Homo sapiens: one gene and its partners. The protein of the gene in region 7 interacts with the protein of the main gene of each other region in a pairwise test. Each region holds a gene or a part of one and is shown on either strand. Other genes may lie near its edges.

The links.
Region 1: the proteins of ZNF587 (region 7) and FST interact in binary tests that used the Homo sapiens proteins (3 or more experiments, as listed by UniProt).
Region 2: the proteins of ZNF587 (region 7) and PDE4DIP interact in binary tests that used the Homo sapiens proteins (3 or more experiments, as listed by UniProt).
Region 3: the proteins of ZNF587 (region 7) and KATNBL1 interact in binary tests that used the Homo sapiens proteins (3 or more experiments, as listed by UniProt).
Region 4: the proteins of ZNF587 (region 7) and CCDC125 interact in binary tests that used the Homo sapiens proteins (3 or more experiments, as listed by UniProt).
Region 5: the proteins of ZNF587 (region 7) and TRIM36 interact in binary tests that used the Homo sapiens proteins (3 or more experiments, as listed by UniProt).
Region 6: the proteins of ZNF587 (region 7) and BEGAIN interact in binary tests that used the Homo sapiens proteins (3 or more experiments, as listed by UniProt).

What each region holds. Positions count from the first base shown.
Region 1 is NC_000005.10:53,482,997-53,487,783, reverse strand, and holds the end of FST (follistatin isoform FST344 precursor), read right to left. Parts: coding exon 4,713-4,787; intron 4,281-4,712; coding exon 4,062-4,280; intron 3,716-4,061; coding exon 3,491-3,715; coding exon of another isoform or gene 3,452-3,490; intron 2,788-3,451; coding exon 2,557-2,787; intron 2,098-2,556; coding exon of another isoform or gene 2,096-2,097; exon of another isoform or gene 1,857-2,095; coding exon of another isoform or gene 1,834-1,856; coding exon 1,751-1,833; 3' UTR 650-1,750; downstream 1-649. UniProt on the Homo sapiens protein: Multifunctional regulatory protein whose primary function is to antagonize members of the transforming growth factor beta (TGF-beta) superfamily including activin, myostatin, GDF11 or bone morphogenetic proteins (BMPs).
Region 2 is NC_000001.11:148,969,711-148,973,991, forward strand, and holds part of PDE4DIP (myomegalin), read left to right. Parts: intron 1-2,469; coding exon 2,470-2,634; intron 2,635-2,800; coding exon 2,801-2,882; intron 2,883-4,281. UniProt on the Homo sapiens protein: Functions as an anchor sequestering components of the cAMP-dependent pathway to Golgi and/or centrosomes.
Region 3 is NC_000015.10:34,154,234-34,158,514, reverse strand, and holds part of KATNBL1 (KATNB1-like protein 1), read left to right. Parts: intron 1-3,830; coding exon 3,831-3,871; intron 3,872-4,281.
Region 4 is NC_000005.10:69,326,077-69,330,357, forward strand, and holds part of CCDC125 (coiled-coil domain-containing protein 125), read right to left. Parts: intron 1-4,281. UniProt on the Homo sapiens protein: May be involved in the regulation of cell migration.
Region 5 is NC_000005.10:115,131,373-115,135,653, reverse strand, and holds part of TRIM36 (E3 ubiquitin-protein ligase TRIM36), read left to right. Parts: intron 1-1,506; coding exon 1,507-1,794; intron 1,795-1,984; coding exon of another isoform or gene 1,985-1,989; exon of another isoform or gene 1,990-2,031; intron 2,032-4,281. UniProt on the Homo sapiens protein: E3 ubiquitin-protein ligase which mediates ubiquitination and subsequent proteasomal degradation of target proteins. Involved in chromosome segregation and cell cycle regulation. May play a role in the acrosome reaction and fertilization.
Region 6 is NC_000014.9:100,538,791-100,542,456, forward strand, and holds part of BEGAIN (brain-enriched guanylate kinase-associated protein), read right to left. Parts: exon of another isoform or gene 1,790-3,666; coding exon 1,706-1,789; exon of another isoform or gene 1,340-1,705; intron 830-1,339; exon of another isoform or gene 526-829; coding exon 1-525. UniProt on the Homo sapiens protein: May sustain the structure of the postsynaptic density (PSD).
Region 7 is NC_000019.10:57,859,452-57,863,111, reverse strand, and holds part of ZNF587 (zinc finger protein 587), read right to left. Parts: coding exon 2,972-3,660; 3' UTR 1-2,971. UniProt on the Homo sapiens protein: May be involved in transcriptional regulation.

The DNA of each region.
Region 1 (4,787 bases), on a different chromosome or scaffold from region 7:
GACCATTGACTGATGTCCTAAACACCATTCTGAAGCTCTAATAGTGTCTAGTGTAAACTGTGAAATATTGATACACTTCCTCTTACAATGAGTGACATTATTTGATCCCTAACCATGGACATCATTGTGGAAATTCACCTCCACCCCATCCTCACCTCATCAAGTCCCTAGCATTCCAACACTATAATGTCTACTTCTGCAGCTGATATTCTGATTTCTAGAATGTGTTTGTCAAATATTATATCTGTTGTCAGCTTTCCTTGTGATGTGTGTTGTTTTTTAAAAGACTGAAACTGCACTGGATTTATGGGAAAGTAAGATGAAGCGTGTCCCTGGCTATGGTGATGAGCTTGCAACAAGGACAGCTAAAACGATGGTGTTTTTAAAGAGGAAATATTAGCCTTGGCATATTGCAGGAAAGAACCCACATCTACAGTCTGTTCCTTCTGTGGTTAGTGACAGGTATATGCCACTCCTACAGTGGGGTTGCTGGACCTCAGATCCCTTTATCTTTCAAACTCCAGTGAAGTGATCTGTACTGCCCTGGCCATGTAATTTCAGAGATAGCTACATTCCTCAGCAAAGGTATCATACACATTTTTACTCAAAAGTCCAAATAACTTCTTTGCATCATCAGGAATTGAAACCATTGGCTTTTTAAAATTTTTTTATTTTTTCACTCATCATTTATTTACAAATACACATTATAACTTTTATATACATTGCACATTTACATGGTAGAAAAGTACAAAACTATATATTTAAATGAATTTATATTTTAACTTGCCATGTTTGAAAATATAAAATTGCATCAGAAAAAAGTATTATGAAAAGCAAGAAACTTGAACTGATAAAGCTTTGATATAACTTTTAGTGATATACTGGTTGAAAAAGAACTAATTTAAAAGGTACAGCTGAGTAGCTTAAAGGAAACACCTAACAAAAGGTTGAATGTGTAGCCTTCAACATCCTTTAGTCTCCTGACACCCACATCATTTCTTTGTATCTGTAACATCTTAAAAGTACATTACTAGAATTCTAATCATCTCCTCTCTCACAAATGTCTTCATCATAACAAAAGAACTGAAGTAGGAGTTTCCTCAAAGATGCTTATCTTCTGTACCTTGTATTTGAGTCAGAGTTATAATGCCTTTTGGTCAGTCAAGGTTCCTTGTAAACAAAACCCGAGGGATCATGTATGTACAGATCAGGCAGCAGAGAATCCAATAAATAAACATGACAGAAACTGACATGCAAGTTTGTTGAAAGTGGAAAAGAGTCTAACAGTGAAATGAAGGGAGACAGATGAGTGAGTGAATAGTAAGGAATGGACTTAAATGGTTTACAAGGAAAAAAAGCTTTTACTTTACAAGCAAGAGACCTCACAATAAATAACAACTGCTCTTCCTTTCACGAATAAATTTCTTCAAAAACAAGGTATACAGTCAACCAGACATTTTATGTATAAATTATAAAACATGACACAGTATAAATAAATGTCTACAAGTCTCAACTATGGGCCTCATCCAGTAGACCTCACAATGAATGCCTCTCCGTGTCCAATGAGTAACAAGGTGGCCTGGGAGAGAGCTTTAGGACAAAGGTCCTTTAATGTATAGTTTTCCCCCCAAATAAATAAGCATACACTTATTTACAGTATGGACAATATATTTTTCTTTTTTTCTTTTTCTTTTTTTTTTTTTTTTTTTTTGCACAAAGGCTATGTCAACACTGAACACTTATAGAGAGTTTACCACTCTAGAATAGAAGATATAGGAAAGCTGTAGTCCTGGTCTTCATCTTCCTCCTCTTCCTCGGTGTCTTCCGAAATGGCTAGATGGGGGAATACAGGGGAGCTGTTGTTTAAATACGGACAACAACAGCGCAGAAGCAGCTCAGTGTATGTTTTCAAAGCCCTCTGATACAGCCATATTACAGCGTTGCATTTTTATGTGACTTGCAGTGAGATGCTTTTTTTGTTTTTGGCATCTGCTGTTATGCAATAAGTTAAAAAAATTTTTTTAAAGCATAATCTATGAAGTCAAAAACTGCAGAAAGTTCTGAAGAATCAATGGCTCAGGTTTTACGGGCAGATTCCTGAAATTAGATAAAAAGCGCTCTTGTGTTCTAGGTATAACTGCTTTGGGTCCTTAATTCAGAGTTAGTAGAGGCAACTGCAAAAAGCAGCAGCCCATGTGTGATAATATGAAGCTGTCGTTGGAAAAAAAAAAAAAAAACTTTTGAAGCAGTTAGTTTAGACTCAAATGTTAATAAAGCAAACAGCAAAGCACACTACCAAAACACAAGAAATAGGGGAAAACAACTGGAAATAGATTTCTAGAGGCAACCCCATTGATGATCACCAGATAAGTCCTAAAAGCCAAGAAACATCGCAGAGAATTTTCTGTGGATTATTGAATTGCTGGTGATACTTAGCAGCTACCTAATTTGAACAGAAATGGATTTATGGGAGATCTGCGTGCTTTGTAAGTGTCCATTCCCTAGGGATTGCCTGGGAAAGCCTTAAATGGCAGCAAGGTTAAAAATCGCACTTACAGTTGCAAGATCCGGAGTGCTTTACTTCCAGTAGCACACCTGAGGAGCAGGCAGCTTCCTTCATGGCACACTCGCTGGCATAAGTGGCATTGTCACTGGCACAGACAGGCTCATCCGACTTACTGTCAGGGCACAGCTCATCACAGAGGGAACACCGGCCTCTCCCAACCTTGAAATCCCATAAACATTTTTTCCCACCAGTGCACTGGATATCTTCACAGGACTTTGCTTCTAGGATATAATACATCTGTGATGAGTAAACTGATTTCCCCATATCCCCCTTTTCTCCCTTTCTCTAGTCCTCTATCAATAAATATAAACATAATTTATTTTATATAAACATAATAGTAATAGCCTATTACTAATGGGGGTAATGGAGATATTATGCAAAAATGCTGGATAATAAAACTGAAACTCAAATGCACACACACATACACACGCACAAAACCCCTGCAGTTTCTTACATACTACATTAGTGCATTAAAAGGGTATTTTTTTAAGAACAGGATTTTACAATATTCTCAAGTTAAATATGTATCTTATTATTTCCCACAAGTGGGATCTTTTACAAAAGAAAGAATTCCATTAATTACTAGAATCTGACAACAGATTTCTGGAACTGCTAAGTAATTATTTTTCGCTTCCAGCAAGTCTGGCACTTAAAAAAATGTGTAAAATTGAGTAAGTTCTAAGTTTTCTAAGACGGAATACTGTTCCTTGCTTCCTGCTGGCATTTGAATATATGTGTCAATGCCTCCAGAAGACAATGGTTTCCATGAGGAATACTGTGGTCACAACACTTTCCCCAAATTGCAGCGTATTTCTCCCTATGGTGTTTGGGGACGCCTTGGGCTTTACTTATTAGTTAACCCCACAGTTTAATAATAGAACTAGCCTGTTTTCTCTTTTTCCTTCCTCAATCCAGAATACCTACTGATACACTTTCCCTCATAGGCTAATCCAATAGATCTGCCCAGCAGGCAGGTAGCCTTTCTCAGGTGGCAGGCACTGGAGTAGGTGACTCCATCATTCCCACAGAGATATTGCTCAGAGGAAGCAGGCTCTGGGCAAATCCGATTACAGGTCACACAGTAGGCATTATTGGTCTGGTCCACCACACATGTGGAGCTGCCTGGACAGAAAACATCCCGACAAGTCTCTGGAACAAAGAAGGAAACACACATGAATAGGTACCTTCTAGTCCTTAGGGAGTGAGCACTTGAAGTTACCAAGGAAATCATGACACTGAAGCATCCAGCTTTCAAAAGGCACTTAGGGAGCCCTGTAGTTTTCAAGAGAGAATCTATGACTAGGTTGGTCCCCTCAGTGTTCTTAATGAATCTCTAGAGGTTAGAAAAGGACTCCTTTATTTGGTTTCAGTATTACTATTATCAGGCTCTTACTGCGGACTACACCATCCCCCAAGGGTCTTCTAGAGGGTCTACTTTAGGTACAAAGCTGGAGGAGGGGACAGATCCAGTCTTGCTCAACAGGGTAGGACCTACTTTTACATCTGCCTTGGTACTGGACTTCCAGTTCTGGCTGCTCTTTACATCTTGCCTTTAGGAGTGCACATTCATTGCGGTAGGTTTTCCCATCCAGCCCGCAGACTGGACCCTTCCAGGTGATGTTGGAACAATCCGGGGCGCAGACGCAGCGGGGTTTGTTCTTCTTGTTCATTCGGCATTTTTTCCCAGGTCCACAGTCCACGTTCTCACACGTTTCTGTGAGTTAGAAACAGGCATGGATTAAAACCAGAGCCAGGCAGTCTGCAGGTCAGCCAGGAGGGCTTCGGGTGCCTTGCGCAATCATGCAGCCCTGAGTTTGCGCTGGAGGGGCCCCAGGCTCTCTCCTGGAATATTGGGAGTTGGTGAAAGAGTGTGGACCTTGGGCTGTGCCCCACACCCAGATCTCTCTCATTAAGGAGCACAGGTTGGTGGGTTTCACCACCACACTTGGCTAAGAAGTCTGGCGTGTATTCCCTACAGCCTGTAACAGGCAGAATTAGAGTCTGCACGGCTTACCAGGGCAAGGGACAGGAAGGGGAAGCCCAGGAACAAAGCTCTCCTACTCCCAAACCCCAGTCAGGTAGTGGGGAAGCTAAGGGTAAGACGCCCTCTACTGAGGGCCTGCAAGTTGGGAAGAAGGAGTCCTACCTTTACAGGGGATGCAGTTGGGGGCGCCCCCGTTGAAAATCATCCACTTGAAGAGTGTGTTGTCATTCACGTCCT
Region 2 (4,281 bases), on a different chromosome or scaffold from region 7:
TTTTTTTTTTTTTTTGAGATGGCATCTCCCTCTGTCACCCAGCTGGAGTGCGATGGCGCAATCTTGGCTCACTGCAACCTCTGCCTCCTGGGTTCAAGCAATTCTTCTGCTTCAGCCTCCCAAGTAGCTGGGATTACAGGCATGCACCACCATGCCCGCTAAGTTTTGTATTTTTAGTAGAGATGGGGTTTCACCATGTTGGCCAGGCTGGCTTACGATTCCTGGCCTCAAGTGATCCACCCATCTCAGCCTCCCAAAGTGCTGGGATTACAGGCGTGAGCCACCATGCCCTGCCCATAGTAAAGTGTTAATTTTTCCTCATTTCTATGTGTTTTCTCCTCAAGGCTAAAAACTCTTAGTTGACTTGTGCTGCATTTCAGATACCAGTAGCTCAGAATCCCCGTAGTCAGTTTTTAGAGGAAGATAGACTCTTTTTTGCCTATGTTATTTGACCCCATAATATTTTCTTATGTTTTCTTATGTTGTGAAAGGATTATACTCCACTATTCTAATTGTTAGGCCCACTGAAGTAAATACACATCTTTCTAGAAAGGTCCTGCTGTGTGCTTCAGAAATTGTTTCTAAAATAGACCTAACAAAATTATTCTAAATTATTTAAATCTTTGGCAAGAGGCTAGGATCTTTGAGTTTTCTTTTTAACTTCTTTGTGATTTGGGACAATTGGTCTTTATTATACCTCAGAAAAAAAATTATGCACTGCTGGTAATAGAATAATGGAGATGATGGAAATTACAGGAGATTTTTCAACTCAAGAAGATTAATGGTTGTATTCTTCTAGATCTGCTTCTCTAAATTTACGTGCAAAAGAAATCACCTGAATAGCTTTTTAAAGATGTAGATTGTGGAGCTCAACTCCAGAGAAAGAAATTACGAGGTATAGGTGGGACTTAAGAATTTGCATTTCTAACAAGTTTCCAGGTGATAGTGATGCTGCAGGTTCGGGGACTGCATTGGAGGAGCACTGCTAAAAACTCTTAAATACTACGAGAAAAGGAGTGCCAAGGCAGATAGAGCACAGTATATATCTTGTATATTATTTATTATGTTTTTTCCCCACAGTTTTCACAGATATTTTTATTAAGGTACTTTAATAATATTCTGATACGTCTAAAATAGTTAAATTCAAATCTCCAAAGAGCCCAAATTTTACTTACTGAAAAGTGGAAGGTTTTTTCATATTTCCCCTAGAAATTGTGACAAGAGCTCAGCTTCTGCCCTAAAACAATAGTACTTTTCCTCAGAGACAGTTGGTGTTATGATTCATCATCTTAGACCCTCAGTAATTTTAATATCAATTTATTATTTCCAGATTTTCTGTTTAAATGCAGACTTCCTGTGCATTAATAGTTAAAAATGTTCTAGATCTTTCCCTTAGTGTGTCATCATCTGTCTTAGAAAACTGGGATTTGAAATGAAACAAGCTGAGTTGGGTGATTTTGAGGTTGAGATTATCCTAATCATGTGGTCTGATAAACATGTTTATGTGCGTAATTGATTCATTCAGTAAATATGTAGTGTGTGCCTATTATGTGCCAGACACCGTACTGGGTGCTTGAGATTCAGCACCAAATTGCCTTTAGGAAACTTACATTCCATGTAGGGGAAGCAGAGAGAGAGATCTATTAGATAATGGTAAGTGCATCGAAAAAAAATTAAGCACAGTAAGAAGTGTTGGAGATAGAGAAGAGATTGCTGGGTTTTAAAAAAAATTTTTTCCCAGCTTTATTAAAGTATAATTGACAAATATTGTATATACTCAAGGTGTACAGCATGATGTGTTGATATACATATACATTTTGAAGTGATTGCCACAAATTAACACATCCGTCACTACACATTTTATGCGTGTATGGTGAAACCACTTAAGATCTACTCTCTTAGCAAATTTCAAGTAAATAATACAGTATTATTAACTAAAGTCACCATGCTATCATTGGATCCCCAAAACATATTCATCTTATACTTTGGCCAGCAAGATTGCTGTTTTGGATAGGATACGCAGGAAAGACCAACCTGATAAGGTGACATTTGGCAAAGACCTGAAGGGAGCAAACCACACAAATGTTTGAGTGAAAAGGAATCCACCCCTAAGAAGCAACTATCCGAGAATAAAGACATTTGTTATACTAATTCAAACCAGAATCTTAACACCTTAGCCTGATAGTTGTAGCAGAACCTATTTCAGATTCTCTTATCTGTTACAGATGTGTTAAATTCAGTTTTTTTTCCCAATATTCTGCCTATGAGACTTTCTTTCCATTCACTTAACTCTGTTTTTCCCTGTAAACTGAAAGCAAGGAAACTATTTCCTAAGGACCCACTGTTTTTTGTTGTTGTCATTGTTGTTTGTTTTTTACAAATGGTTGACTTTGAAGAAATAATACCAGAACAAAAAATTTGTTTTACTAGAATATCTTTATAATGTTATTTGTGATTTCCTCTTACTAGGCTGCTGCAGAGAAGTTGGTGCAAGCCTTAATGGAAAGAAATTCAGAATTACAGGCCCTGCGCCAATATTTAGGAGGGAGAGACTCCCTGATGTCCCAAGCACCCATCTCTAACCAACAAGCTGAAGTTACCCCCACTGGCCGTCTTGGAAAACAGACTGATCAAGTAAGAACTATAGACTTACATAATTCATGCTGATTCCATTTCCTTTTTACATTTGAGGTGTAAGTTTGATAATTTTAATACCAAATTCTGAGAATATTCTCAGTACTGTCATTGTGATCATAGTTCCTGCATCTTCCTAAGTCCCCTGACTTTTGCAATTTTTTAGGGTTCAATGCAGATACCTTCCAGAGATGATAGCACTTCATTGACTGCCAAAGAGGATGTCAGCATACCCAGATCCACATTAGGTAAGTATCAAATTTCATTTCATTAAGGGACTTTGTTTTTCTCTTGTTTTTTCTTCTAGTAATCTCTGTATTATAGGTTTGGCCAAGACTCTTTTCTCTTCCTACCTTAATAGAACAAATAAGTTTGGAATTCCTCTGAAAGGCTGAAGAACTGTCCTTACCTTATGTTGAGTTGAGCTGATTGCTCTGGGTTCACAATTCGGCCCAGAGAAATTCTATCCTTACTCTCCTTTTCAGATAGCTTTGCAGGGATTCAGAAATGCAGGAGGTAATTGTTCCAATCCTGCACAGCAGGGCCATGAGCTGACACCTTTTCCTGGGTATCGTTTCAAGTCTGGGGCCACTCACTGTAACTTGACATCACCTACTAATGTTATATATATATATAATGTTAGCATAGTTTGATAGTTTCTGGCACAATAAGATGTTCTATGATTACCTTTTGCTTTACCTGCCTCAGTCCCAGAATCAGCCATTATCCTAAAGAGCTCCCTGGTTCCTTTTGGTGGGTAATGGCATTCAGAAACTATGATCTGGACACAAGATGTGTTCATTGCTACATGAATGCCTTTTGCTTCTAGGACCTTTTTTTTTTTTGAGACGGAGTCTCGCTCTGTCACCCAGGTGGGAGTGCAGTGGCACGATCTCTCTGCTCACCTCTCGAGTAGCTGGGACTACAGGCGCCAGCCACCACACCCAGCTAATTTTTTTGTATTTTTAGTAGAGACGGGGTTTCACCGTGTTAGCCAGGATGGTCTCAATCTCCTGACCTCGTGATCCGCCCTCCTCGGCCTCCCAAAGTACTGAGATTACAGATGTGAGCCACTGCGCCCAGCCGCTTCTAGGCCCTTTTAAGAGAACAGAACTAGCAATGAATATTTTTAAGTATGTATGTGTGTATTTGTATATATGTGAAGATTTGATACTGATTTCCTTAATTCCAATTTAACAATATAGGTTCTTTTTTCCCTCATTTCATATTTGTATCTCCTTGAGAGCCCTGGTTACTTATAGCATCAATATATTTCAAAATATTTACACAGTTGCAGAATACTATAATATGCAAAAGTATTTTTGGAATTGTTACATAAATATCACCATCAACAATAAATGTATTAAGTAATGTTTAAGATTTTTTTGTAATTCTTTTTATCCTTAGGATATTTTGCACTGACAGTGTTCAGTTAGAGTAGTAGTGAGTTCAAAAATTATTTGGATTAATTTTTTTATTATCTTCTGGATGGTTTTGTTATCTATTTGCTATATAGATTTATTTATTTATATTAGTATTCAATTTTAGACCTTTTCTCTCTCATTCATTGTCAAACTGACTTACACATTAAAAATTAAACATTTACACAGTTCAAAACTCTAGTATATAAAATGATATACTCAGATG
Region 3 (4,281 bases), on a different chromosome or scaffold from region 7:
CAGGACATCAAAGAGATATCTCTTTTGAAAGCTGGGGGAACAACCTTGCAGATCAAATAGCCAAACAAGCTGCCATTTCCTCTGAAATGCCTGTTTTTCACTTAACCCCTTGCCTTCTTCCCCCAACTGCAGTTCCCATCTTCTTTCCCACTGAAAAAGAGAAATTAATAAAAATAGGGGCCAAAGAAAATTCAGAAGAGAAATGGGTGTTACCAGACCAAAGAAAAATGTTATCCAATTCCCTTATGAGAGACCTCTCTCATCTGCATCAAGAGACTCATTGGGGACCTCAAGCTATGTGTGATGCAGTCCTTTGGGTTTATGGATGTGTAGCAATTTACACTTTGACATGACAGGTTACAGATAGTTGCCTAGTATTTAGGATGACTAATAAGCAGACCCTCAGAAAACCACCTCTTAGGGGAAGGTATCTGGAATTAAGACTGTTCCAAAGTATCCAAGTTGATTACGCCAAGATGCCCCAAATTGGTTGTCTAAAATATTTATTAGTAATAGTAGATCACCTTACTCATTGGGTAGAAGCTATTTCCTTTCAAGTGCAACTGCTAATAATGTAGTCAAAACATTAGTTGAAAATATTATACCCAGGTTTGGATTAATAGGAAACATTGATTCAGATAATGGAACTCATTTCATTGCACATGTCATTAAGAAATTAGCCCAGGTACTGGATATAACATGGGAAATCATACTCCCTGGCACCCACCTTCATCAGGAAGAGTGGGGAAAAAAATGAACCAAACTCTAAAAAGCCACTTAAGCAAATTAGTCTTAGAGACTCGGTTGCCATGGACTAGATGCCTTCCCATTGCCCTGTTGAGAATCCGAACTGCTCCTCAGAGAGATGTTGGCTTATCCCCTTATGAAATGTTGTGTAAGTTGCTCTATTTGCACTCCGCTGCTGACATTCCCATGTTCGAAACAAAAGATCAGTTTCTCAGAAATTATATACTTAAGTTTATCTTCCACTTTCTCTTGCCTCAGAACTAAAGGTCTTTTAGCACAGGCACCACCCCTAGAGTTTCCAGTACACCAACATCAGCCTAGGGACCACATCCTTGTCAAAAGTTGGAGGGAAGGAAAACTTGAACCAGCTTAGGAAGGACCCTGCCTAGTGCTTCTAACCATTGAGACCACAGTTCAAACAGCAGAAATGGGATGGACTCATCACACCCAGGTCAAAAGAGCACCACCTCCTCCAGAATCATGGGCAGCTATTCTAGGGCTTACTCTAACCAAGCTAAAGCTAAAACGGGTTTGATCCTCTTATGTTGCATCTCTTCTTTTCCCCATCTATTGCTAGTCCTCTTGTTATTAATGTAACTAGGTCGAGTTCACCCCAAACTATTACCTTTGATGCTTGCCTTGTGATGCCCTGTGGAGATGTGCCAAGCCAGAGGCAACTCTCCACTTCAGAAAAGTATCTTTGTCCTTCCTAGCTCTTCTCAGACTGGAATTCTGTTAACTGGGATAAGTTAGCTTGGGAAGAGTTTGACGGAGATTCCAGTATAAACTGAGAGTCTTGCCTTCCCAATACAAAGCTTTTATGCTGTAGTTGGTCCAACATTCTGTGGACCACTAAAGAGCAAGAATAGATTGCCCCAAGCAGTAGTTGTAATTTCCTAAAGCTATACATTCATTTTACTAAAGGAACAGCTTCCCCTAACTGTCAGCTAAATCAGTACAATCCAGTACAGGCTATTATCTCAAACCCTCTAAGTTCTTCCCCTTCTCTAAGCCAATTTCCTTCTTTAAGCCAGTTTTATAATATGGGGGCTGAGGTTTCAGGAGCAGACCCTATCAGATCCTTTGAAATATTCTTCATTGCTCCCCCACCGCCTACACCTTCCCCTAAGCCTTCTTCCAGAACCTCCCACAACAAAACTGTTGTTCTTCCTCCATCTAATGACAAGACGAAGGTAGCTATTGTAGAAGTCAAAGTCCTAAAAGAAACTTTAGCAATTGAGACGGGATATCAAAATGCCAATGCCTGGTTAGAATAGATAAAATATTTCATCCGCACTTTAAACAAAAGCAATTGTTATGCTCGTGCGCATGGCAGGCCAGAGGGCCAGATTGTCCCCTTTCCACTATGATGGTCCTCCAGTCAACCAGGCATGGGCTGTATGGTAGCTCTTTTTCCAGGATTCCACAGCCTGGGGTAACAAGTCGTGCCAAGCTCTTTCTCTGCTATATCCCGAAGTTCAAGACCCCACAGGTTAGCCCCCGAGGGCCATCCAGCTTCTGTCTCCCGACACTGAGTTCATTTTGTGTCTCTCACGACAAAGAGGAAACTTAGCATCCCTTAGAGACCTAAAAGGATGCGGTGAGCTTAAGACTTTCCAAGAGCTCACCAACCAGTCAGCCCTTATACACCCCCGAGCAGATGTATGGTGATATTGTGGTAGACCTTTGCTGGACACTCTGCCTAGTAACTGGAGTGTCACTTGCGCCCTAGTGCAGTTGGCTATCCCTTTCACCCTGGCATTTCATCAACCAGAGAAAGAAAAAAACACAATGTCATAAAGCAAGGGAAGCCCCTTATGGGTCTTTCGACTCCCACATTTATTTAGATGCAATTAGAGTCCCACGAGGAGTACCAAATAAATTTAAGACCTGAGATCAAATAGCTGCTGGATTTGAGTCAATATTTTGGTGGGTGACAATTAATAAAAACGTAGATTAGATAAATTCCACCTATTACAACCAACAGCGGTTTATTAACTATACTAGAGATGCTGTTAAAGGAATAGCTGAGCAATTAGGGCTTACTAGCCAGATGGCTTGGGAAAATAGAATGGCCTTAGACATGATTTTAGCAGAAAAAGGGGAAGTTTGCATCATGATTAAAACTCAGTGTTGTACCTTCATCCCAAACAATACCGCCCCTGATGAAAGTATAACAAAGGCATTGCAAGGTCTAACTGCTCTGTCCAATGAGTTAGCAAAAAACTCAGGAGTAAATGACCCCTTCACAGGGTGGCTAGAAAAATGGTTTGGTAAATGGAAAGGGATCACAGCCACCATCCTTACTTCTCTTGCAATTGTAGCAGTAGTGCTTATCCTTGTTGGATGCTGCATCATACCTCGCATCCGTGGGCTAGTCCAAAGACATACAGAAACAGCCCTTACTAAAACTTCTCTCAGTTCCCCTCCACCATATTCTGACAAGCTCTTTCTTTTAGAAAACCAAGCAGAACAGCTATGCCAAGACATGTTAAAGAAATTTGAAGAGGAAGACCTGTAAAATTCAAAAGGGGGATATTGTTAAGTACAGTGAGTTCTGAGTTCCTCTGGGAACCAGTATGTCAGTATGTTCAGCTTTCTTATACTTTGTTCTCCATTTTAAAGTTTAACTTCCTCATTCTTTACACCTCCTTGCCCTAGTTTCAGTAAACAACCCCCTTCTAGCCTTTATACTCACATATTTAGAGTCCTTAGTCATCCTTAGTCACCTGCTCTGTCCTTAGTCATCCTTAGTCACCTGCACTGTAACCATCCTTCCTGCCTAAACTGCTCACCCCGCCACTCTGCCTCATACCCAGATAGCCTATCAGAATTAGTTTAGACTGTGCGGTCCAACCCTAGCCAATAGGGGAATGACACAGTAGTAGGGACTAGCTGCATTAGGGATAAGAACCCCTTCTCCTCCCATGCCCGGTATGCTCTTGCGACCACTCCAGGCACGATTGGCACCCTTCTGCAGAAGTAAATTGCCTTGCTGAGAAAGCTTTTTGCCGGAGTGCTGATTCTTCTTTGCGGCACCAAGCATTTGTTTCTAACATCAACTATCTACTTTCATTTTTCAGGTTAAGAAATCTCCAAAACAGTTGGCTGCTTACATAAATAGGTAAGAGTTTCTTTAAAGTTTGTGGGGAACAACAAATATGAAAGCTGGGTAAGGATGACAATAAGGGAAAAATAAGCATTCTTTTATCATAATAATAATTAACTTATTGTCAAACAGCTTCTTTATGCCAGTATCTGCACTAATAAACACATCAATATTGTCTCTGCTCCTTACAACAGTCCTACTCTATAGCCTACTCTATAGATAACATTAACCCTAACAGTTGATGAGAAAACTTAAGATCAGATAAGTTAAATGATTTGTTCAGAATCATATAGCTAGAAAAGTGGTAAGAATGACATTCATTCTCAGATCTGCCTAACTTCTAAAGGCACTTTCTACAAAACGACTGGTTTTCAAAGTGTGATTTGAGGACCTGCGGGTCCCTAAAGACCATTCATGGAATTTGT
Region 4 (4,281 bases), on a different chromosome or scaffold from region 7:
TCCTTCCACCTCAGCCTCCCAAAGTCCTGGGATTACAGGCATGAGCTACCACCCCTGGCCCAGAGACAGATTTTTAATCCAGATATCTGATGTCAGAGCCAACACTCTTAGCCACTGTTTTGTATTATTTGGAGAATTTCAATGAAATTAACATCAGAGTATACCAAGTTTCTATTATTTATGACTTCAAATAGAACTTAAAGTAAAAGTCTAAAATATCTAGTTTGAGCAACATCTAACAGATTCTGGATCCACTTTTTCCCAGATTTTTATAAAATCATCTTGGTTCTTTTACAAGATTATTTCCTTAAAAAGGAGATTTACCTATTTTGTCAAGGTAGATAAGAAGATATTTATTGAATCAAAGAATAATCCCTTGAGAGGCTGTGTTTTACCTCTAGTGCAGTAGACTCCTGCTTGTTAAGGGCAACCTCTGGCCTGTGTTAAGAAGGGTGTGGTCAGGATTAGGCAGGCAGCAGAGAAGAAAATGGAATTGGTCAATATAAGGGGGAAAAGCTGTAAAAGGAAAGAGTAAGCAATTGTAGAGTTAGCTAAGAATATTTTTCAATGCACCACATAAATTCAGGCATCATGGGTACGCCTTCCTGCTATTCAGAGTTGAATATAATGAGGTTTTGTTGTTGTTTTGTTTGTTTTTTATCCCTGCCTACTGTTTCTTAAACTTAACTTCAGGCTGGGAATGGTGGCTCATGTCTGTAATCCCTGAACTTTGTGAGGCCAAAGAAGGAGGACTGCTTGAGCCTAGTAGTTCAGACCAGCCTGGGCAACACAGTGAGACCTCATGTCTACAAAAAAAGGAAAAAAAGAAAACTGCTGGGCATGGTGGTGCACACCTGTAGTCCCAAGCTACACGGGAGCCTGAGGTGGGAAGTCAAGGCTGCAGTGAGCTGTGATCACGCCACTGCACTCTAGTCTGGTCAACAGAGCAAGACCCTGTCTCTAAAAATAAATAAAATAAAATGTAACTTCAGGGACTGCTGACTGTATATTCTCCCACTTTTTTTTTTTTTTTTTTGAGACAGCGTCTTGCTCTGTCGCCCAGGCTGGAGTGCCCTGGCGAGATCTCGGCTCACTGCAAGCTCCGCCTCCCGGGTTCATGCCAGTCTCCTGCCTCAGCCTCCTGAGCGGTTGGGACTACAGGTGCCCGCCACCACGCCCGGCTAATTTTTTGTATTTTTAGTAGAGATGGGGTTTCACCGCGTTAGCCAGGATGGTCTCGATCTCCTGACCTCATGATCTGCCTGCCTCGGTCTCCCAAAGTGCTGGGATTACAGGCATGAGCCACCCCGCCTGGCCTATTCTCCCACTTTTTATATGCTGATAGTAAGGTAACATGAAATACCATACAAATTAAACTTCACTTTTGAAACACATTACTTCCAAGAAAGTGAAAATATTTGAAGTCACTAAACTATCCAACCAGTTTAATGTATTCAGGGTTGATGACCAGGGAAGCAGCAGGATGTGTTAACGGAGAAGGCACTGACTCGAGAGGTCTGGGTTCAAATCTCACTTCACCACTTGCCACTTTTTGATCTTGGGTAAGTCATTTAACTTCTTAGAGCCTGTTTTATTTCTTAACAGGGGTTTAAGCATAACTACTTTATTGGGACATTTTTGGGCACCACTGATATATTTGAAATCAACTATGGTAGCCAAATCAATGTTTATTGAATTTGAATACTATTTTCTTCAATTGTCAATTTAGGGGACTAGATTTTTGGTTCTTCAGAGCTCTAAAATTGTTTCTGTATCAGCATTTTCCAAAGTGTGCTCCATGGAACATGTTCTCCAGACTATTAGGTTTTGCTAGGAATAAAAGTGTCCTTTTGGTTTTATTGAGGGCTGGAGTGCAATGGCGCAATCTCAGCTCACTGCAACCTCCGCCTCCCAGGTTGTAGCAATTCTTGTGCCTCAGCCTCCCAGGTAACTGGCATTATAGGCACCTGCCACCATGCCCAGCTAATTTTTGTATTTTAGTAGAGACAAGGTTTCACCATGTTGGCCAGGTTAGTCTCAAACTCCTGACCTCAGGCCATCCGCTCACCTCTGTCTGCCAAAGTGCTGGGATTATAGGCGTGAGCCACCAAGCCTGGACTTTTTTTGTTTTAATTTTTTAAATTAAAATGAGTCTGTATTTATGCCTGTTTTATGTTCAATGCATTCAGCAATTTACTCTACCATTTAATTTCTAATTGGACAAAATTAGAAAATAATAAAATATGTTGAACAATAAAGAAATAGTTAAATCTTGGTTTAACAACTTTATAAAATACTATGTAATTAAACAAAATTAATTAAATAAGTATTAGAGTTATAGTGTATTTAACATAGTTTAAGAATAATCTCCAGCCTGGGCAACAAGAGTGAAACCCCATCTCAAAAAATAAAAATAAAATAAAAATAAAAATAAAAATACTATGTAGTATAGACTAGGCAGCAACATGATAAATGCTCACATATACAAGTGTAAAACATAAAAAGCAGAATTCAAAGTTGTCTGTACTAGAACAAAGATTAGAAGAAAAACAAAAGATAAAAATAAATTAGTAGGATTAGAGTATTTTTCCATATACCATTTTTATAATATTGTATTTTAACAGTACTACAAAATCTAAGAATATCTACAGCTGATTCTGTACTATATGGTAATCTTGAATAGATAAACACAGAGGTTCCTTCATACTTTATACGTTTGACTTTTTTTTTTTTTTGAGATGGAGTCTCGCTTTGTCACCCAGGCTGGAGTGCAGTGGCGCCATCTCACCTCACTGCCAGCTCCGCCTCCTGGGTTCACACCATTCTCCTGCCTCAGCCTCCTGAGTAGCTGGGACTACAGGTGTCCGCCACCACGCCCGGCTAATTTTTTGTATTTTTAGTAGAGATGGAGTTTCACCGTGTTAAGCAGGATGGTCTCAATCTCCTGACCTCATGATCCGCTGGCCTCGGCCTCCCAAAGTGCTGGGATTAGAGGCGTGAGCCACCACGCCCGGCCTACCTTTGACTTTTAAAAGACGACTTGAACCAACATATCAATATATGCTGTCTAAAATAGATGTGTCAACGTTTAGGATTAAAGTATTTATTTTTATATGGACAGAGTCTCAGTCTGTTGACCAGGCTGGAGTGCAGTGACAGCTCACTGCAGCCTCGACCTCTGGGCTCAAGTGACCCTCCCATCTCAGCCTCCCGAGTAGCTGGGACTACAGGCATGTGCCACCACACCTGGCTAATTTTTTTGTTCTTGTAGAAGCTAATTTTTGTATTTTTTGTAGAGACGAGGTCTCCTTATATTGCCCAGGCTGGTCTCAAACTCCTGGGCTCAAGCAATCCTTCTGCCTCGGCCTCCCAAAGTGCTGAGATTACAGGTGTGAGCCACCATGCCCAGCCAGGATTCAAGTCTTTTTTTTTTTTTTTTTTTTTGAGACGGAATTTTGCTCTTGTCACCAAGGCTGGAGTGCAATGGCGTGATCACGGCTCACTGCAACCTCTGCCTCCTGGGTCAAGTGATTCTCCCACCTCAGCCTCCTGAGTAGCTGGGATTACAGGTGCCTGCCACCACACCCAGCTAATTTTTGTATTTTTAGTAGAGATGGGATTTCACCATGTTAGCCAGGCTGGTCTCGGACTCCTGACCTCAGATGATCCACCTGTCTCGGCCTCCCAAAGTGCTGGGATTACAGGCATGAGCCACCGAGCCCAGCTCGGATGTATTTTTTTCTATTCCAGCCCAGGCATACGTGACTTGCCCCAAATACAATGGTAATTAGCAGCAGAGCCAGGACTAGAAACAATATTTCTGGCTCTTTGTCCAGTCCTCTGGCCACTTGGGAAAGGCTGTAGGATGAATAGATTACAGTCTGTTAGCAGTCGTCTCACTTTTCCACTAAAACAACTCTTTAAAAGATGACCAGTGACTTCCTCATAGATAAATCCAAGATCAAGTTTCATTCCTCAGTCTCCTCTACCTTTGCAGGAGCTGTGACACTACTGACTCACTAAGTCCAGGTCCACCTGACTCCTGAAGCCCCTAGAAATAGAAATCTGATCCTCCTCCTTCCCTGACTCATATCTTCTCATATCTGTCCTCTAAGGCTCTTTTTCTTTTTCCTGTCCCTTTTGTAAATGTTTGGCTTCTTTTACTAATCTTAAATACACATCTCCAACTGGATATTCCACCAGCAATCCAAGCACATCTTGCTCAAAAACAAATTCACCGCCGGGCACGGTGGCTCATGCCTGTAATCCCAGCACTTTGGA
Region 5 (4,281 bases), on a different chromosome or scaffold from region 7:
GTGGATCCCAAAATGGTTGCTGGAAAGGTAAGGTTGAGGGTGGGTTATCCTGGGTTATACCACTGTATAGCAAGGAACCAATAAAACAGGTGGATGAGAATGGGATAGTAGTCACCTAGCTTCTGGCTGATGGATCTTCCCCTCATTTTTTGCTACATGCATTTTTTTTTTTTTAGTAAGCTATGTTTCAAAAAAAGAAAGAAAAAGAGTATGGGGTAGGCGACATACTATTTGTTAATCTGTAACTTTTTTTTTAAATTTTAAAATGTATTTTGAATAACTTTCCAGATCTCATTATGGCTGCATAACATTCAGTTGTATAAATGCAGCATACACAGAAATGCTTATACATTGGGGAATAAGGAGAGGAAAGAGACTTCTGCTTCTTATTCATGTCCTTCTCTGTGATTTGTCATAAATGTGTGTGTGTAGCTTTTATAGCGTATTGTTCTTAGCATATGATTCCAGCAGTTAAGCTTGGGAATTGGCTCTATAGAAAGGACTTTGCATATGAATAAAGATTTAGAATCATTTTATTTTTAGTGAAAAACCAGAAACCTGTTTCCAAAACTAAACAGTTAAATGTTGATATATCCATGTAGGTAGTATACCATTGAGGGGGAAAATACTGGCGAGATCTATACAAAAAGGTTATAGTAATTACCTTTGAGTTAGTTAAAATCTTTTAATGTGTATTTTTCAGTTTCTGATTTCCTTATAAAAATATGTACCATGATTTTATTTAGAAAAATTAATTTGCTTTGCAACTCTACAGAATAAACTATGCAAAGAAATGATAAAATATTCATTGAGAGGCCGGGCACAGTGGCTCATGCCTGTAATCCCAGCACTTTGGGAGACCAAGGCAGGCAGATCATGAGGTCAGGAGATCGAGAACATCCTGGCTAACACGGTGAAACCCTGTTTCTACTAAAAATACAAAAAATTAGCCAGGTGTGGTAGCACGCACCTGTAATCCCAGCTACTTGGGAGGCTGAGGCGGGAGAATCACTTGAACCTGGGAGACAGAGGTTGGAGTGAGCTGAGATCATGCCAGTGCACTCCAGCCTTGGCAACAGAGCAACACTCCATCTTAAAAAAAAAAAATTCATTGAGAGTTTGATATTCTTACCAGACTTAGATTTTAAAATATTAAAATAATAGTTTGTTTAGGGGAGGACATAGGTAAAAAAATTTCAAGTCCTGGGCTGTTATTCAGTAGGTAGAAGGCATGTGGTTAAAAAAAATTTACTTGTGGCTTTGAGTCAGTTTTTGTCTTTTTTACTCTTCTTTCTCCTTTCAGTTACAAATATAGATATACCTTTTAAATATAAAAAATATTTAATATATTTAATTTTTGTGCTTTCTATATATAGTATTATAAATTTAGAAAAGTATTAGTATAGAAATCATTAAATACTGTTTATATGTCATTTTATTGAGGAAAAACACTGGTTTTCAAATGTCAATATTTTAATGTTGTTTTCTATTTCATAATTCTTTCAGGCATAGACGTGCCAGAGATCAATGAGGAACAGAGCAAAGTTTATAACAATGCCTTGATAAATTGGCACCATCCAGAAAAGGATAAAGCTGATAGCTATGTTCTTGAATATCGGAAAATCAATAGAGATGATGAAATGTCATGGAATGAGATAGAAGTGTGTGGAACAAGTAAAATAATTCAAGACTTGGAAAACAGTAGTACCTATGCTTTCAGAGTAAGAGCTTACAAGGGTTCAATCTGTAGTCCTTGCAGCAGAGAATTGATTCTTCATACTCCTCCAGCTCCAGGTATGGTGAATATCAGGAATAAAAAAAGCATAGAGTTAGTTGCAAGAGACCTTGATAAAATAAACTAGTCAGTATCTCCATGTAGACCTGCACTGAAACCAGCTCTTGTTTTTAAAAGACTCCAGAAAAGTAGCTTCTATCCCAGCTGGGCTTTAGAAATGAACTGAGTACTTGAATTTTTACCTTGTAGGCTGAGAACAGGATTGGGTTTTAACTGATGTCAGATAGAGAAAAACATGGAAGGAAGAAATTTGGGTGAGCAGAGCTAGTAAGTTGGGATTTAAATAGCATAAATGCTATTTTAAAAGTTTTAAATATATAATTCTGTATTTTTGGTTTATGGAAATCTCTAAAACATAATTTTTAAAATTTATTGGTCTAATATCCTAAAATATAATTTTGATTTAACCTAATTCTGATTTGTCTGGATTTTTTTATCTAACTAGGCACTTCTCAGATAATAGGGATGGAAGCCATATATTAGAACCACATGAATAGCTTTTCCTCCCACGCTAAAAGCTCCTTATGCCCAGTCATCGCCCCCTCCCTTCCCAAGTTAAAAACCACTGATACTACATATAGAGCGCCTAAAGATTTTTATAGAATGTGAATGACTTTAAAGGTTCGTTGATGTTCACTATGATGTCTCCATGAACAAGGGATATTTAGAACCAAAATTGTGCTCAGCCTGGTTAGCAGGAAAACGTTTTCCCCTTTCAGTCACTGCCTCAGAGATGCCTTTAATTGGATTTTAGGTCCACTGTCCCTTGCCTCTTTTTAGTGTCTTATGTACCCATATTTTCTTCACTCTCCCCTTTCTTCCTTTTTTGTTCAAAATAGAAAAGCACAATTTGTTTTTCATGCACATTGTAGCTTTTAAAAAATTGGAATACAAACATGGAAGATTGGCTAAAATTATATTTCTTAAATTTTAATCAAATCCAATAGAGAGTTTTGGGATGAATTTGCAGGTATTAAGTAACTATTTTATGGTTTATGCTATTTCTGCTTCCTTTTCTAGTCTTTCTGCCTGAAAGTGGAAGAAAAACCTGGACATAACTGCTGTTTTCAGTCACATAGTGGAGGGGAAGGGAGGAGAGGAAGTGTTAACAGTTGTCTTCCTTTTTATGAGAGAAGATACGTGACTAGGGTGACCCTTTAAATTTATTTTGCAAACTGGGAGACTTTTGAGATTGAGAGCAAGCACAAATAATCATGCCAGGAAAAGAGGCATTAGCAGGAAGAATGGTCAGCTCACACGTGGGTAATGGCTGTAGTTTGCTAGCAGTCTTTTTTTTTTTTTTTTTTTCTTTTTGGAGGTGGAGTCTGGCTCTGTCACCCAGGCTGGAGTACAGTGGCACCATCTCAGCTCACTAGCTCACTGCAACCTCTGTCTCCTGGGTTCAAGCAATTTTTCTGCCTCAGCTTCCTGAGTAGTAGCTGGGATTACAGATGCAGACCAGCATGCCTGGCTAATTTTTGTATTTTTAGTAGAGCCAGGTTTCACCATGTTGGCCAGGCTGGTGTCACACTCCTGACCTCAAGTGATCCACCCACCTCGGCCTCCCAAAGTGCTGGAATTATAGACGTGAGCCACCAGGCCCAGCTGCTAGCAGCCTGTTTAAAATATATATATATATGTATATATATATATACACACACACACACACACACATAGAGAGAGAGAGAGAGATGGGGTCTCACTATGTTGCCTTTGCTGGCCTCAAACTCCTGAACTCAAGTAATCCTCCTATCTCCCATGTAGCTAGGACTAAAGGTGTGCACTATGATGCCTGGGGGTCATTTTTTAAATTGTGGTGTAATAAAGATAAAATGTATTATCTTAACAGTTTTTAAGTATACAGCTCATTGGCATTAAGTACATTTACAGTATTGTTTAAATATCACCACTTTTACCTCCTTAACTTTCATTATTCTAAACTGAAACCCTGTACCCATTAAACAGTTACTCCTATTTCCCCTCTCCCCAGAGGCTGGTAACTTTGATTCTAATTTCTGTCTCTATGAATGTGCCTATTCTAGGTATCTCATATAACTGGAATAATGCAATATTTGTCCTTTTACATCTGGCTTATTTATCCATGTTGTAGCATGTATCGAAATTTATCCATACATGTAGCATGTATCATACATGTTGTAGCATGTATCCAAATGTATGTATCCAAATTTATCCATGTTGTAGCATGTATCCAAATCTTTCCTTTTTAAGGCTGAATAATATTCCATTGTATGTATATACCACATTTTCTTTACTCATCTGTTGATGGACTTTCTGTTGTTTCCCCATTGGCTAGCAGCCAATGTTATGCTTAATATATTTGAGTTGATACAGACTTATGGGAGTGGTATCATCATTCTGCAGATGAATAAATTAAAGTTTAGATGAAACTCTAGTTGAATGCTTGAGTAGGATTCAAACCCAGGTCTCTCTCAACCCAAAAGCTGTGTTTTTGTTTTTGTTTTTTT
Region 6 (3,666 bases), on a different chromosome or scaffold from region 7:
CGCGGTCAGCGTGCTGGCCTGCGCGTGCTCCTTCTCCTCCGACGTGGCGCTGAAGCTGGAGTAGGAGCTGGACGTGGGCAGTGAGCCTGCGTAGCTGGGGAAGGCCTCATGCTGGAAGCCCGCCGGGAAGGCCGCCGCCTCGGCCTCCTCCTCCTCCTCGGCCGCGCTGTCAGTGGAGTTCTGGGCCCGCAGGAAGCCCACGTCGGTCACGGGCGCGTCCACGCTAGGCCGCCGGTCTCGCCGCCGCTCCTCCGGGCAGTAGAGGGCTGTGTCACTGCAGTAGATGTCTCCCTTGTAGGGGGGCCGCGGGCCTGGTTTCTCCACCCCGTCGCAGAAGGCCAGGTCGCGGGCGGAGGCATCGGACAGGCGGGAGGACAGGCTGGCGGGGTCCGGCTTCTCCAGCACCTTGGCAATGACGCAGGTGGGGACGCTGTCGGCGTAGGCCGGGTGGCAGAGCGGGGATGGCAGGCTGCAGCCGTGCTTCTCCATGTGCAGGCTCACGCGCTCCTGGAAATCCGAGGGCAGCTGGAACGGGTGCGAGGAGGGGGACGGCGGGTACAGGGTCACTGTTAGCATGGCAGCCCAGCCCTGGCCCTGAAGCTGAGGACTGATGTTAGCCATGACCGACAGGCAGACAGACGAACGGGGGCCTCCCGGCTTCTCAAATCACACCAGGGGGAGCCTGGATCCAGGACGCTGTACTGAACAAGCTCCCAGGGGTGTGGGTGCTGTGACTGCCTGGGGATCCTGGGTCACCTCTCCCCACCCCACTCTGATTGGGCCCAGGAGAGCCCAGAAGCTGCAGTCGCCTGGAGAAGCCGGAACCCAGGTCTGATTCAGGCCCCACTCAAGGCTCCACCCCCCGCCACCCCCACCCCACCCATTTTGTGCCCAGCGAGGGGTTGACTTGCTCTCCCAGGCCCGTGGGTTCTGTGGGTTCTACTGGGGGCATGACCCACTCCCCAGCCCCCCAGTCATGCTGCTGGAGCGCTCCTGAAGAAGACAGACTCAGATGCAACAAAGATTGAGGGCCAGGGCTGAGAGCGCCTGGTGCCATGTGGGGGTGTCCCGCTACTGTTTGATCTATTTTGTGAGTGTCTCAGGCATGGCCCAGGACCAGGGGAAAGGAACGCACAGGCCTGGCTGGGAGATTGCATGTGAGGGGAGGGTCGGGGGACGGGGTGCGCAGGGTGCGGCGACCATAGGCGGGCAGGGGTGGGCCTCTGGCCCATCTGCCCTTGGCATCAGACAGGCCTGGTTCTGGGTCCTGGCTCTGCTACCTGCCTGCCACGTGGCCTCAGCCACGCCCTCTTTCCTGAATGTTTTCTTTCTGAAATAGGCACTGCCGGTCATCGTGCCCAGCCACAGGCTCCTGCGAAGCTCCACAAAGGTCACTCTGCCGTGTCAGCGCTCAGTGGAAGCAAGGACCTGGAGCAGCCCCCCAAAGGAAACCGAGGGCAACCAGCAGCCGGGGTGGGCCAAAGGGACTCTGGTGAGGGCCAGGGGCTGCCCGGCTGCGTGAGGTGGGGTGCCTTTGGCGGCCCCTCCAATGTCATGACCCCACAGGAGCGAGGGGGACAGAGGAGGCTCAGGCTCAGCTGGCATCTTCCTCCTCAAAGATGGGAAATGGCTTTGGGGTAGCACTGGCACAAAAGGAGCCCGGTGGTCCCGGGGCGGGGTGGGCCTGGCTGCGGGGCCACGTTACCTCAGACACCTTGTGGACCCTGCCGTAGGTCTGGCTGCACTGCAGCAGCTGGGCCGCTAGATTGCAGTCCTTCCTATAGAGCTCCTAAAAGACAAGAGAAGGCGTTTGGCGCCATTCACCCCAGCCAAGGCCCCGCCGCCCTGACCAGCGCCAAGTGGCCAGCGGGGGCAGTGGTGTGCACAGGGCCTGCTGTGCGCTCAGCAGGACAAGGACCCACTGCTGGCTCCGGCCCTCTCTGGCCTCCACACTCTTGCCTGCAAAATGAGAGCCTCTTTCTGACCTGGGGCTGCCGGAGCATGGAGGGCCCTGCCGCTGCCCTAGCTGGTGCCCTTGAGCACTGCCAAGATGGGAACCTCCCACAAGGTGGGGGGCAGTGGTAGAAGAAGGAGCCCCAATGGCCCTGAGCTCCCCCAGGCTCGTAGAGCAGGCCTGGTCTCCCTGTCCCTGTCCCTCAGGCTCTCGGCGTCCTTCCAAAGATGACGGGGTGGGAGTGCCAGGCAGGAATGGGAGGCAGGATGAACCCCCAGCACCTTCCACCCCGCACTTCAGACTTGCTGCTCACAACCCTCTTCCCAGAGTGTGGTTTGGAAACAGTGTGGCTGCAGGGCTGGGCAGGGACTGGGCAGGTGTGTGACCTCAGGCCCAGGCGGGCGCTGGCTCAGCCTCCTGAGCTGAAAACAGATGCAAACAGTAGGACTCAAGGGGTGTGGCTTCGCCACTGAAAATCTCTGTTGCATGTGCCTGTGTTTGGGGCTTGCATTCCCGCCCCTCCGGGGTCCCCACTGCGAGGGCTCTGACAGCTAGCCCTGGGGTGGCCCGGAGGCCCAGTGACCCACCTGAGCTGCCCCATGGCTGCTCCTGGCAAGGGCTGGCCACAGTCCCAACCCAGCCAGCACCAGGCATCCTGCTGTCCAGGCAAGGCTGTCTCTGACACAGGCACCTTTCTGTCCCCCCACCACGGCCCTGGAGCCTCCCTCACTGAAGGCTGGTGCCCCCAACTTGGCCTACACGGTGGAGGGCGTCGGAGTCGCCAAACCCCTCTCAGTGCCTCCCTGGGCCTCCTAGGAACAGAACAGCACGGCTGCCTGAGAGCTGAGAACTGACCCCTTGTATGACCCCAGTCGACCGGCTGCCCCTGGCACCAGAGGGCTGCAGGCACTGCCCAGCCAGCCCAGGTCTGCCACTGAGCCCCACCAGCCACAGCCAGGAGTGGCTGCCACTGGGAAGCCGGTGCCATGCCCATAGCCCCTGGGGCACCTGGCTGAGTACCCAAGCCCCTGGGCTGTCCATGTCTGAGGTGGCCAGCTCTGGGACAGCTGGGAGCCTTTCCTGAGCAGCCGCAGCTGCTGGCTCGGGGAGGAAATGCTCACGGGACACTCTGGCAGAGCGAACAGGTGGAGGCAAGCACTCTGGCCACCCAGGGCCCGGGGCTGCTGGAGTCGGAGTCCCGAGGTTGAGTTCTGGCTCCGTCTGCGAGACACCACCTGGGTCACCTGGGAAACCACTCAAGCTGGCCATGCCTTAGTTTCCTCATGTGCACCAACCCTGCAGAGAGGGCCCCAGGACTAGTGTCCACTTAGGTAAGGGGCCTGGCCTTGTCACGTTAAGAAGCACCTCCTGTCCCGAGCCCATGTCCTCCTGTCCTCCTGTTAGAGCCACACTCCTTAGAAGGGTGGCCTGTGTCTGGAACCACCGCTCCACTCCACCACCGACCTCCAGTTCCCCAAATCCCAATGCCTCTCCTTGGCCCTCTGACCTGGTCTCTCAGCAGCTGGCAAGCCAGCCGGCCAGGGCATTGACTGCAGCCCCCTTCTCAAGTGGTTGTTGGGCCACCATACTCGCCTGGTGTCCCCCAGCCTACTGGCCACTCCCTCCCAGGCATCCTTGCTGGTCCCTACTCCGTCCTGGGGCCTCCCTGCTTCTCATCTGCATGCTGCCTGGGCAGTCTCCGCCGGCATGCC
Region 7 (3,660 bases):
GCTGACGTGGTGGGCGCTTGTGGTCCCAGCTACTCAGGAGGCTGAGGCAAGAGAATGGCGTGAACCCGGGAGGTGGAGTTGCAGTGAGCCGAGATCGTGCCACTGCACTCCAGCCTGGGTGAAAGAGTGAGACTTCTCAAAAAAAACACAAAGTGTCCACTCAATAACTTTGCTTGAAACTGTCTTCATGTTCTTCACTTCACAAATATAAAGCTGTTACAGTGGACTTTGTGAGGTTCCATGTTTTTGGTCAGCCATAAGAGGAAGAATAATTCAGAGTGAGAGGAAACAGATTCTAGGCAGCCCTCAGGGAAGTTGAGGAGGTGGCACCCTGCCTCCGGGTCCCTCAGAATGTCCCATCTCCCTGTCAGTATCAGTGTCCCAGATAATCTTCTTCTGATTGGGACATTTCCCTGGGAACAGTGGTTACTTGCCAAATTCACATTTACGGCCAAAACTGTGGCTGCAGTGTCGACATTCATGCAAGTGGGGAAATGGGCATGTGACCCCTGAAAAAAGATTCTGGATTCCATAATCTCACCTTGCTGAGAAGAAACTGCCATTTCAGCAGAAAGTGCAATGACAGTTTCTGCACAGGGACTGGAGATTATCTCTAGAAAAGAGCTTGGAGTGAGGAAATTAGTTAATGTGGATGAATGACGTTACCCATGGAGAATGAAGTAAGTAGCTAGAAGACAAAAGCCTCAGAACACATAAATCTCAATGGGTATTGAGTAGAGGACTCAGAGCTCTGAGATAATTGGAGCTCATGGCTATCCTAGAACTTGGATAACATAAAGTTCTTGTTTCTACAAAGTGTGTATCCTTTCCATATGTGAGAACTGTGAGGAAGTACAAACTTGGAACAAAAGAAATAGTAAGGTAATCTTAGAAAGATGTTGAAAAGAAAGCTATGGTGGCATCTTAACTGTTTCACTGCCTGGCAATCTATATGTATTGTCACTTTGGGACGCTTATGATTCCACATGAAGTGGATAACCAGCTCATAGTTCTTGTGGTACTGAAAACCAAGTATTCAGCCAGGTACAGTGGCTGACACCTGTAATCCCAGCACTTTGGGAGGCCGAGGCAGGTGGATCACTTGAGCTCAGAAGGTAGAGAGCAGCCTGGGTAACATGGTGAAACCCCATCTCTACTAAAATAAATAAATAAAATTAGCCAGGTATAATGGCACATGCCTGTAGTCCCAGCTACTCAGGAGGCTGAGGCAGAATCGCTTGAACACAGGAGGTGGAGGTTGCAGTGGGCCGAGATCATGCCACTTCACTGTAGCTTAGGAGACAGAGCTAGACTCCATCTGGAAAAAAAAAAAAAAAAGAAAACCAAATATTCCTTGCAGCAAAGTGACATCACTGAAGAATGAATGAAGTCCAACATACGTCTTTGTTATTTCATTATTTTTAAATATATTAATGAAATGGGAAATAGATAAAATTCATTTTAAAAAACAAGCCTACAGGTGAGGCCAGGCAGGGTGCCTCACCCCTGTAGACCAAGCACTTTTGGAGCCTAGGCAAGTGGATCGCCTGAGCCCAGGAGTTCGCGATCAGACTGGGCAAAAAGGTAAAACCCTCTCTACAGAAAATACAAAAGTTATCCAGTTGTGGTGGTGCATACCTGTATTTCCAGCTACTCTGGAGGCTGAGGTGGGCAGAGTGCTTGAGCCCAGGAAGCAGAGGTTGCAATGAGCTGAGATTGTGCCACGGTACTCTAGCCTGGGAGACAGAGCGAGACTTTGTCTCAAAACAAAAAAAATGCAAAACATAAACCACTGACTCAAAAGTTATAACCACTTATTAAAATAATAAACAATTTCAAATACTAACCATACTCCCTCTTGGTAAGATAGAACAGAAATTCTTGGACACTGATGGTAGATAGATATACAAATGAGCAATAATTTCATTCTTAAGTCATAGTTTGGCATTGCTTAAAAAGTTGTACATTAGGCCAAGCACAGTAGGTCACACCTGAGAAGCTGAGGCAGGCAGATCACTTGAGGTCAGTTCATAACAAGCCTGGCCAGCATGGTGAAACCCCATTGCTAATAGAAATAAAAAAAAAAGTTATCCAGGCATGGTGGTGCACACCGGTAATCCCTGCTACTCGGGAGGCTGAGGCAGAAGAATCAGTTGAACTTGGGAGGCAGAGGTTGCAGTGAGCCGAAATCATGCCACCTAACTCCCGCCTGGGTGACAGAGTGAGACTCTGTCTCAAAAAAGAGTTGTACTTTAATCTATCACGTGACTCAGGCACTGCACACCACCATATTACCATAGTGAAACATACCTACATGAACAACTGCATTCAAATATAGCAGTTTCATTTATAACAGACAAAAACAAGAAGCATGTCATTCTTTTTTCTTTTTGTAGAGAGGAGGTCTGGCTATGTTGCCCAGGCTGATCTCTAACTCCTGGCCTCCAATGAACCACCTTGTCCTCCCAAAGCATCAGGTTTACAAGCATGAGCCACCATGCCTGGTTCAGCATGTCATATTCTAAGCAATACGAAAAGAATGAAGGCCAGGTGCAGAGGCTCATGCCTGTAATTTCAGCACTTTGGGAGTCAAGGTGGGTGGATCACTTGAGGTCAGGAGTTTGAGACCAGCCTGGCCAACATGGTAAAACCCCATCTCCACTAAAAACACAAAAATTAGCTGGGCGTGGTGGTGTGTACTCATAATCCCAGCTACTCAGGAGGCTGAGGTAGGAGGATTGCATGAACCCAGGAGGCCCAAGTTGCAGCGAGCCAAGACTGCACCACTGCACTCCAGCCTGGGTGACAGAACAAGACTCCATCTCAACACGAAGTCGCTTAAGACCGAGGACAGCAGACATTCTGATGTTTTCCACATTGACAGCACTCATAAGGCCTTTCTCCAGTATGAACTCTCCTGTGTTTAACGAGACGGGATGCTTCAGCAAACGATTTCCCATATTCACTGCACTCATAAGGCCTTTCTCCTGTGTGAACTCTGATGATGAAGGAGGGTAGAGCTTCGCTGAAATGTTTTTCCACATTTGGTGCATTCATAAGGCCTTTCTCCAGTGTGAATTCTCCTGTGTTTAATGAGACTGGAACATTCAGAAAAGGATTTTCCACATTCACTGCACTTATAAGGCTTTTGTCCAGAATGAACTCTTTTATGAACATGAAGCGCAGAGCTGGAAAGAAATGATTTCCCACATTCACTGCATTCATACGGCCTTTCTCCAGTGTGAATCCTCTGATGTATAGTCACGCTGTGCTTATTGCCAAATAATTTCCCACATACCTCACACGCATATGGCCTTTCTCCAGTGTGAACTCTCTCATGAACCAGAAGATGATACTTCCTGTTAAATAATTTCCCACATTCCCTACAATTGTAAGGTCTTTCCCCAGTGTGAAGTCTCTGGTGTTCAGTGAGGTGGGATCTGTACCTAAATGATTTCCCACATTCCTTGCACTCATAGGGCCTTTCTCCAGTATGACCTCGCTGATGGTGAACGAGGTTGCCCTTTTGACCAAAAGATTTCCCACATTCTCCACACTTGTAAGGCCTTTCTCCAGTGTGAACACGCTGATGGTTAATAAAGCAGAACTTCTGACGAAAAGATTTCCCACATTCCCCACAGTGATAAGCTCTCTCTCCAG